Linked DNA regions of Homo sapiens: region 1 is linked to region 2. Evidence: fine-mapped QTL for protein levels in blood plasma. Region 2 holds a variant in brackets. A gene starts in the other region. All regions are shown on their forward strands.

The links. PIP is the chance, under the fine-mapping model, that this variant and not a neighbour inherited with it causes the effect. The UK Biobank Pharma Proteomics Project read protein levels with antibody pairs (Olink). The fine-mapping took linkage between variants from a reference panel, not from the people measured, so its PIPs are less certain.
Region 1: it holds the start of EDA2R, and the variant in region 2 is fine-mapped to the plasma level of the EDA2R protein (UK Biobank, PIP above 0.99).

The regions. Positions count from the first base shown.
Region 1 is chrX:66,638,600-66,643,919 of GRCh38, forward strand. It overlaps EDA2R (ectodysplasin A2 receptor), which reads right to left and starts at 479. Exons shown (of 7, transcript NM_021783.5): 1 at 396-479. RefSeq lists an enhancer at 1-299.
Region 2 is chr1:248,894,592-248,899,971 of GRCh38, forward strand. It overlaps a transcript of PGBD2 not described here. Among named protein-coding and RNA genes, the nearest start is that of PGBD2, 9.0 kb to the right of the region's middle. RefSeq lists a silencer at 1,281-1,463. The variant G/A (reference allele first, on the strand shown) is at 2,916.

The DNA of each region.
Region 1 (5,320 bases), not on the chromosome of region 2:
GCAGTTCTGCTTTCCTCAGGATGCTCCACAAGTCTGATCCACTGTCCCCGCCTTCACTAACACCCAGCCTCCTTCTCTTCTTTATCTCCCAACCCTAGATGCTCAAGGTTGTTGGACACGTCCAGGCATGTTCTCAGAGGCAATGCAGGTCCAGTAAGAGCCTACAGGAAATGGCTCGCCAAGATCCTAGAGATGTCAGCCCAGATCCCTGATACCTCAGAAAGCGCTCTCCGGACACAAATGGATGGACTGACAGCCAGCCACAGGGCGCCTTCCCAATTGTTCTGATTTTGCGGTACCCTAGCAGGATCATCCTGACCTGATTCTGTACTTCTGCACCTAGATGCCGCAGGTCCCAGCCGCCTTGCCACACCAGGGGGTGTTCCCACACTCACCCGGTAACGGACGAGTAGATGGCTCTTGCTCCCAAATGGGACTCCGGTACAAATCCACCTCAGCGCAGAGCACACATCTCACCCAGCCCCCTCCCGTCACCCCCCGCCCTTCACCCCGCGCCCCTCAGCCCCCGCCCCTCAGACCCGCCCATCAGCCCCGCCCCTCAGCCCCCGCCCCTCAGCCCCCAGCCTGCATACACACTCACAGTATATGAAATTCCTTGTAATCAAAGTTCCGCTTGACTCATTTCACATCCACGTGTAGCAACAACAGCCCAAACCCTCCTTTCACGGTAAGCTTACCTCTTCCGCCCCCGTGAAGTTCCTAGAGCAGCTATTGGACTGTTTGAGTGCCTAGGCGTGGCTACGAAAAGAAACTGCCTTTGAGAGGAACAATGTGAGGCTGAAGAACAGTGACCCAGCCACTGGTATGGCAGGAGCTGCAAATCTCCTGGGACTGAAGCGGGGGCCAGAGAGTAGAGGGCCAGGGAGTGGGGTCCAGAGAAAGCATCAAGTTGTCTCTTTCACAGCTGAATGCAGCTCAGCTCATCAAAGTTTATTCATGACTTAGCAGGCTTGGAGTTTGACAGGGAAAATTATTGTTGGAAAAGCCAAAATTTTCAGACACATGGAGAAGCCGCTTTCCAGCTCTGCATCTGCCTCAAAAAAATACTCCTCCATTCAGAAGGGTAGATAGGATTGTGACAGGAGGAAGAGAGCAGACATGAAGCAGGGAAAAGACCACTAAAAATAAAGGAAAATTGGATTCGGCACTCAGCTTTGATCATCCATCTTCTCTGGGCCCCTGAGTGTCTGTACAAGGAGGGGGTTGAGCTACGTAGTCTCTAAGGGCACTTCAAACAATGACACTTTGGGAGTTTATTAATCCATGATCTCAGAGGCAGCGGTGGATAAATCCCGAAACGTTACTAGTCCCTGACCTTGAAGAGTTTGCAGAGCTGGGAAGATAAAGTAGACCGGACAGAGACAGAGAATTAAGGGCCAAACTATGAGGTGCAGACTGGAAGGGTTTGGGGGCCAGTAGGAAGAAGGAGTAAAAAAGAGTCTGACAAGGAAAGCAAATGCTTTTCAATAGATTAGGAGCTTTTAAAAGAGGTCAAAGAGGAAATAGCCTAATGGGTAGAGGAAAAGAAAAGCTTGAGCCAAGGTATGGGGGAGAGGACCAAGAAATGAGCCATTATCAGTCTCTGAGGGACCCCTCCTGTACTGGGCAGAGGCTATATGCCAGCTCAGGGTGGAGTCTCAGTAAAGCAGCTGAAAAGCCTTTGGTGGGAAAGGGCTGAATAGGCCCTAAGCTGAAGTAGAAAAAGTCCTAAATGAACTTCATATCTGTCCCCTAGCTAGAGTTAAGACCAGAATAGGCTACTGTGGGCTCAGGCCTAGTAGAAGGGAAAACTGCCAGAATTGGAATCCTAGGTCTGCCCCTTACTAGCTTTGTGACCTAAGGCAAGTTACTTAACCACTCTGTGGCTCAGGATTCTCTTCTGTAAAGTGGGGAAAATAACAATCCCTTACTCATAGGATTGTTTTAGGTATTATATGAGTTAATATACAAAATAGTGTTCATATGCGTAAGGAGCTTAGAATGATTTCTGGGACGTAGTGGTATAGAAGTGTTTATTAAATATAAATAAATACATGAATGCAATTTAGGGACCTCTGAAATCATCTGTGAGATTCAAATGAAAATAGCTACCCTGGGTACCTCCTAATTCTGTTCTGTCCTTTCCTAGAAAACAGGACCTCTTCTTTTTCTCCATCCTTTCCTACCCAGAGAAGCTGAATTACAGACAGTTTTGAAACTTTAGTGTAAAGAACCCTAGCTTGGAATTTAGATGTCTTGACAAAACTAAGTGTAACATCATGTAAATCTCTTCCTCTCTCTTAGTTTTCCTTTCTGCATCTGTATCCTGAAGAGACTGTTGGACTGGATGACCTTGAAACGCTAGAGCCGTGCTTCTCTCATATTAATGTGCACACAAATCACCTAAGGATCTTGTTAAAACACAGATTCTGAGTTAGCAGCTGTGGTGTGGGACTAAGACTCTGATTTTCTAACTGCTTCCAGGTGATATTGATGGTGCTGGGCCACAGACCATAGTTTTAGTAGCAAAGGTTTAGAAGGTGGACAAGAATAACATTTACTGAGCACCTATAAATCATGCATATGTGTCCCTTTATACCTTACAACCATTCTATGAGGTTGAGGTTACCATCCTCATTTTGTAGATGAAGAGGCTCCTTGTACTCTGTGATTCTGCCTGGAAGTACAGGAGGAAACTTGAGATAGAGGTACCAGGGATATGTCAGAGTCCACAAGCTATTGTGGAAAGTGATTATAAGCAGCAAATATGAAACCACTGTCCTCCACCATAACTTGTCCAATAATACTATAACAGTTAGCTGGCCCTCACTAAGCACTTGCCAGGCACTGCTCAAATTTTTTTCATGAATTAATTCATTTTATCTTCATAATCTATGAAGCCACAATCATTAGAATTATCCTCCCCTCTCCTTTTGCTCACACCTCACATTCAACCCATCAGCACATCCTATCAGCTCTGCCTCCTGCCTCAGAGATAAACTCTGAATTTCACCAACTTCTTAGCACCTTCACTGCAACCACTCTGGTGCAAGCCACGATTACTTTTCACCTGAATTATTGCCATATCCTCCAATAGCTCTCCTTGCTCTCATGCTTACCCCACTCCAGTCAATTCTCAGCAGAGCAACCAGAATGATCCTTTTAAAAGTACATCAGTCTAAGTCTGTCCAAGCAATTCTACTGGTTGGCTTCTTATTCAGCAGAAAACCCAAAATCCTTAACTATGGTCTATAATAGTCTACAATCTATCCCACGCCATCCCATCCTCACTAACCTGCCCCTCTATCTCTGATCTCACCTCTTACCACTCGCCTTGACCACCATACCCAACCCCAACTGGCGGCCTTGATATTTTTTCCAACACTCAAAGCATGCTCAAGACTCTGGTCTTTGCACTTGCTGCTCCTTCAGCCTAGCCAATTCTTCCCCCAGATATCAGCATGGCTCCTTTTCTCACTTCCTCCATATCCCTGCTTAAATGTCACTTTATCAAAGTGGACTTTCTTGAATACCCTAGCTAGTACAAGCTAATGGGATTGCCTAGGCCTTTTGAAATCCACTGGGTAGGTGAGCTTTTTCTCAACATAGCCCCAGGACCCCCGGTGCAGTGTGGTGGTGAGTAGGGTTAAGGCTCTCAACTCTGCTCTCTGTGGGGGAGCCACTCTAGCTCCATGTGCTTGTGCAGCAGAACTAAGTTTGGATCAGCTAATTTCTTGGGGGCTTTCCACAGCCCCTCCTTTTATGATAAACAGGAGTCACTTTGTGAACCCAAACTGAGAACTATCAGTACAGAGTTTCTCTACCTACATTCTACTGCTGGAACCAGCCTAACCTGACAGCAGGATAGGCAGGACCAGCCTCCACTCTGCTTATCTCTGGGACCAGACAGATTCTGGGGCTCAGTGAGATTCAGGGCTCTCTGATGCCACCCCTCAGCTCTCTCTCAGAGGTTACTTAGGGTCACTCAGGGGAATACTGGCCTTGGCTGTGTCTCAGAGAATCCTGGGTAGCCTCTAATTCTAGTGTCCAACAATGGCAGGACCACCTTTCATGAAGGAGCTTCATGGTTATCCAGGCAGAATGGGGCCCTTATAGCTCCTCTCAAGACTGGGACCAGGGGGCAGGAAAAGAAGCTGAAAGACTAAGGGGATGCTGAGGCCTGTGGGGCAACCCCTGTAAACTCAAACATTGCTAAGGATGTCCCTGAACACAATATCAGCTTCTTGTTCTCTTTAGCCTGTGAGATGTGTGTAGATAAACTTGGCCATAAATGTTTGCTGCAGTGGTGTATACAGGCTTAGGTCTTCTGAATTAGAAAGCTGGGGTATAAGAGTTACTTCTAGCCATGGGAATTTTCAAACTTCAGCTAGATTCTAGCACAGTCCAATAGTGTTATCTCTCATTTTAAATAATCTTCTATTCCACTTGCCCAAGATGGCTTTTAAAACTCACTCTTCTTAAGTCAAGTGCTCAACACAGCTCCCAAACCCCTAGCAGATGACTTCACCTCCAGTTTCACCGAGAATGTAAAAGGGCACGAAACTTGAAGTCTAAACAACTTCTGACATCTCCACATTCAAGTTCATCCTGTTTCTTACCTCAGAGTTTCCTCCTGTCCCTCCTGTCTCCATCTGTGTTTACTCCTGTCTATTCCATTTTGCTTTATTTGTATCTTCATGGTCTTTCTTCCTCTGGCTCTTTCTCCTAAATTGTCTTTCCATTCTGAACTAAGATTAATTCTTTTCATATCCTCACCTCCACCTCTTCATTTCCAAACTCACTACATTTTGCTCTTCTCAAGGTCACCCATGATTTTCATACTATCAAACCCATGGATTCTTCTGTTTTCTTATTTGAATTATCTAAAACATCCAACATTGTCTGGATTCTTTTCTTTCTGACTCTCTTCCCTTGACTTTCATGGAACTAATGTCTTCTAGTTTCACTTATTTCTCTACAGCATTTTATGGATTCTCATTCTCCACTTGCCCCTCAAGTGCAGGGATTTTACAGAGTTCCTCCCACCCTCCATTGTCCCTCTGGCCTGATTCTAACTTCTCTCACTGGAGTGTGAACCTATGTGGCAGGGACCTTATATACCATTTCACAAATTTCCACATGCAAAACTGTACCTAGAGTATTTTAAGCGCTCAATACATTTTTACATATTATATATATCAATATATCTGTTGAATAAGCCCAAGGAGAAAAATGTTCACATTTGAATGTATCCTTCTATAATGAGCTCCCAGGCCTCAGGTGTGCCACAATAAAAATAAGATGGCTAAAAAGGAATTGA
Region 2 (5,380 bases):
GATTTTAACCTGTATTCTTTCACTTTAATAAGTCAAAACTCACTGTAATGAATATACACATTTTCTTTTTTCTTCTTTTTCCCTTTCTTCCCTCCCTCCCTCCCTCCCTCCTTTCTTTCTTGCTTGCTTGCTTGCTTGCTTGCTTTCCTTTCCTTCCTTCCCCTTCCCCTTCCTCTTCTCCTTCCTTCCTTTTCTCTCTCTCTCTTTCTTTCTTCTTTCTTAGATGAGGTCTCGCTCTGATTGTCACTGGCTGGAGTGCAATGACACAATCATAGCTCACTGCAACCTCAAACTCCTGTGCTCATGTGATCCTCCTGCCTCAGCCTCCTGAGTAGTTGGGACTCCAGGTGTGTATGGCCTGCATCTGGCTATTTTGTTGTTGTTGTTAATTTTTTTAGAGATGGGATCTTGCTATGTTGTCCAGGCTGGTCTCTAACTTCTAGTCTCAAGCTATCCTCCCAACTCAGCCTCCCAAAGTGTTGGAATTATAGGCTTGAGCCATCACACCCAGCCTATAACAACTTTTCTGAGTTCTGTAAGTCCTTCCAGCCAGTCATTGAACCTGAGAGTGGTCTTTGGGTCAACCAACAACAGGCCAATGTTTGGGAACTTAACAAAGAGAAAGAAGCCAGAGGAGTGTGACTGTGGCCACAGTCTGGTTTTCCTCTGATTTCACAGGGACCAGTCCTGCCCACAGAGTGCTAGGCCTCCTCTTTGGTGGTGAGTAGCCCCCATATTTGTGGCTATACTGCCAGCCCAACCTGGCACACAAAGAGGAGGAAGGACAAAGAGGAGGAAGAAGGTCTGAGTAGCAAGGGTTCTGCTGCTCAAGGAAGCAAGACTACCTTTAAGAATTGGCTCCTGTTCTGTTCCCCAATCCAATAATCATCCTCGTGTCTGGTGCTGTTAGACATTTAAGGAATTAAATATCTTAATGATATTTAAGGCTTGCAGGGTATTTTTTTTTCTTCATTATTTTGGAGGAAACAGGTGGTTCTTGGTTACGTGGATAAGTTCTTTAGTGGGATTTCTGAGATTTTGGTGCACTAAGATTTTGGTACCTGAGCAGTGTACACTGTACCCAATGTATAGATTTTTTTGTTTTGTTTTGTTTTTAGACAGAACCTTGCTCTGTCACCAGGCTGGAGTGCAGTGGCGTGATCTTGGCTCACTGCAACTTCCGCCTCCCAGGTTCAAGCGATTCTCTTGCCTCAGCCTCCCAAGCAGCTGGGACTACAGGCACGTGCCACCACGCCCAGCTAATTTTTGTATTTTTAGTAGAGACAGGGTTTCACCATGTTGGCCAGGATGGTCTTGATCGCTTGACCTTGTGATCCGCTCACCTCGGCCTCCCAAAGTGCTGGGATTACAGGCATGAGCTACTGCACCCGGCCCACTGTATAGTCTTTTATCCATCACGCCCCTCCGACCCTTCCCCCGCCCCGAGTCCCAGAAGTCTATTATATCATTCTTATGCCTTTGCATCCTCATAGCTTAGCTCCCTTATAAGTGAGAGCATACAATATTTGATTTTCCATTCCTGAGTTACTTCACTTAGAATAATGGTCTTCAACTCCATCCAAGTTGCTGCAAATGTACGGCTTGCAGTTTTATGCAGTTTTAAATAGGCTCCCTGGTTCTCAGGCCGTTGACTCAAATTGGAATTACAACACTGGCTTTCCTGGGTCTTCAGCTTGCAGACAGCAGATTTTGAAACCTCTTAGTCTCCATAATCCATAAGCCAATTTCTCATAAATCTTTTCATATATACATATATATATATATTCTCTTGGTTCTCTTTATCTGGAAAACTCTAACTCTCACAATCATGCATACGTTTATCATTCCTTATGGATATTCTTTTTCTTTTAGAGATGGGGTCTTGCTCTGTCACCTAGGTTGGAGTGCAGTGGCACGATCACAGCTCACGGCAGCCTCAAGCTCCTGGGCTCAAGCAATCTTCCTGCCTCAGCCTCCTGAGTAGCAGCACACCTATAGCTCCAGCTGCTTCTAATTGGCCATCTTGGCCCCTCCCTCCTACAAAAAACTTTTAGAGGGAAGGGACAAAATTACTGATTAGAAGCAGCTGCAGTCTTCAGCGCTCACCAAGAAGAATGAAAATGGTAAGTGCATTCTATACCTTCAACTGAGATATCCAGTTGATATTGGATGCTGGCTAGGCAGTGACCCATGGAGAGCAAGGAAAAGCAAGGTGGGGCGACAGCCCACCTGGGAGCTGCATGGAGCAAGGGGATCGCCCGCTCCCAGGCCAGGGAGGCCGTGAGGGATTGCACTACCCCACCCAGGAAATCACACTTTTCCCATGGATCTTTGCAACCCATAGATCAGGATGTAAAAAGTAAAGTAGAGGTTCCTCTTCAAAGATTTTCCTCCCCATTTAATTAGGAATAAATAGTAACTTCTCTTAGAAGCAAAATTTATTCAAAGACCTGTGCTAACATTCTTAAATATCTGCTAGCCGTGGTAAAGAAATCAAAGTACTTTATGTCACAATTTAGCCTAAATATTTGCCCTAGCATGCTTATGCTGGTCCAAGCAAGCATTAGGTGATAGCCTGTTCCTCTTCCTTATGTGAAGGTGCTTTTTACCTTTCTCAGCATTCCACCAGTTACTTCCTCCTTCCTTTGTTCCCCTCTACCTTTGCCTCTTTAAGAAAGTTCTAAGTTGCTAGCCGATCGGAACAAATACAGGATGTGAGGTCCCGTGCCAGCCGATGGAAACCAGACACAGCAGTAGGGTGGATGCGTCAGGTTATAAATGACCCTGTCTTCTTTGTTTGGTGTACTCTCATGGCAAAACTGCTGGCAAGCATACCTTTTCTGCAGTAAGTAAAAATGGCCTTGCTGAGTAAATTAAATGTATGTTCAAGTGCTATTTCTTTACGGCACTGGGGA[G/A]CAAGCATTTCAAACAAGGAGATTCCTTCTTGAGCCTATGCCACCAGGGCCTTGGGTCCCAGGCACAGAGCTGTGCAGACCTGGTGGCCACTCCAGTCAGCAGCTGCTCGGGAAGGCACAGAGATGCAGGAGTTTTTGCATGCTGAAGCTTGAAAATTCCTGTGAGGCAGGAGATCTGTCTGTTCCTGTAGGAAGGGGGCTGAAGCCAGGAACCCAAGGGGCATCTTTCAGTGGGCTCCACTCCCACAAAACCTTACCAGCTAAGACCCACTGGCTTAGAAATCCCCATGGGCCAGTGGCAGCGACTGGAGACTGCCTGAGATGACCGAGTTCCTGGGGAAAGGGGCAGCTGCCATCTCTGCAGCTCCAGTTGGCTATTTTGCCCTCCTAATGCTGGGGAGACTGGGTGGTTTGGACCGGGAGGGATTCCCCACAGTGGAGCTCAGCAGCTACGGCAGGTTGTGGCCAGATTGCTTCTTTACATGGGACCCCGACCCATTCCTCCTCACTGGGTGGGGCCTCCCTGTGGGAATTTCAGCAACTCCAGCCAGGGTTTAATGGACAGAACTCTGATCTCCCTGGGATGCAGCCCCTTGGGGGAGGGGCAGCCATGGTCTCTGCAGTTCAGCCGACAGCCTTTCCCGCCTGCTGGCTTTGGAGAGTCTGGGCAGTCCAGATGACAGGGGTTCTCCCCAACAGTGTACCAACTCCACCAAGGGGCAGCCAGACTACTTCTTCAAGCAGGTCCCCCCAATCCTATCCCTCCTGACTGAATGAGACCTCCCAACAGGGGTCTCCAGACACCTCCAGCAGCATTTGGGCTTGAATCAGGTCAATGTTCCTCTGGGAAGGAGCAGGCTGCCACCTTTGCTCTCCTGACCTCATGATCCGCCCACCTCGGCCTCCCAAAGTGCTGGGATTACAGGCGTGAGCCACCGCACCTGGCTCAACATTTTTAAAGAAAAGAATTTCAAACCCAGAATTTCATATCCAGCCACACTAAGCTTTATAAGCAAAAAAGAAATAAGACCCTTTTCAGATGAGCAAATGCTGAGGGAATTCATCACCACCAGGCCTGCCTGGCAGGAGCTCCTGAAGGAAGCACTAAATATGGAAAGGAAAAACCGTTACCAGCCACTACAAAAACACACTGAAGTACACAGACCAACAACACTATGAAGCAACTACATAAACAAATCTACAAAATAACCAGCTAGCATCATGATGACGGGAACAAATTCACAAAGAAAAACATTAACCTTAAATGTAAATGGGCTAAATGCTCCAATTAAAGGACAAAAAATGGCAAACTGGATAGAGTCAAGACCCATCAGTATGCTATATTCAACAGACCCATCTCACATGCAGAGACACAAATAGGCTCAAAATAAAGGGATGGATGAAAATTTACCAAGCAAATGGAAAACAGAAAAAAGCAGGGTTTTTTTGTAGTTTCTGACAAAACAGACTTTAAACCAACAGAGATTAAAAACACAAAGAAGGGCATTACATAATGGTAAAGGGTTCAATTAAACAAGAGGAGTTAACTATCCTAAATATATATGCACCCAATACTGGGGCACCCACATTCTTAAAACAAGTTCTTAGAGAGTTACAGAGAAACTTAGACTCCCCTACAATAACAGTGGGAGACTTTAATACCCCACTGACAATATTAGACAGATTATAGAGACAGAAAATTAACAAAAATATTCAGGACCTGAACTCAGATCTGAATCAAGTGGATCTTATAGATATCTACAAAACTCTCCACCCAAATTCAACAGAATATACATTCTTCTCATCACCACAAAGAACTTACTATAGTTGAACATGTAATCTGAAGTAAAACACTCCTCAGCAAATGCAAAAAACTGAAATCATAACAGTTTCTCAGAACACAGTGCAATCAAATTAGAATTCAAGATTAAGAAACTCACTCAAAACCACACCACTACGTAGAAATTGAAAAACCTGATCCTGAATGACTCCTGGGTAAATAATAAGGCAGAAATCAAGAAGTTCTTTGAAGCCAATGAGAACAAAGAGACAACACACCAGAATCTCTGGAATGCAGCGAAAGCAGTGTTAAGAGGAAAATTTATAGTACTAAATGCCCACATCAAAAAGCCAGAAAGAGCTCAAGTCAATACCCTAACATCACAAATAAAAAACTATCCCCAAAGCTAGCAGAAGACAAGAAATAACCAAGATCAGAGTAGAAATAAAGGTGATAGAGACATCAAAAACCCTTAAAAAAATCAGCAAATTCAGGAGCTGTTTTTTTTGGGAAAAAAAAAAAAAAGTAAAATAGATAGACTACTAGCTACACTAATACAGAAAAGAAGGAGAAGAATCAAATAGATATAATTAGAAACAATAAAGGGGATATCACCACTGACGCCAATGGAAATATGAACAACCATCAGAAAATACTACAAACACCTCTATGCAAATAAACTACA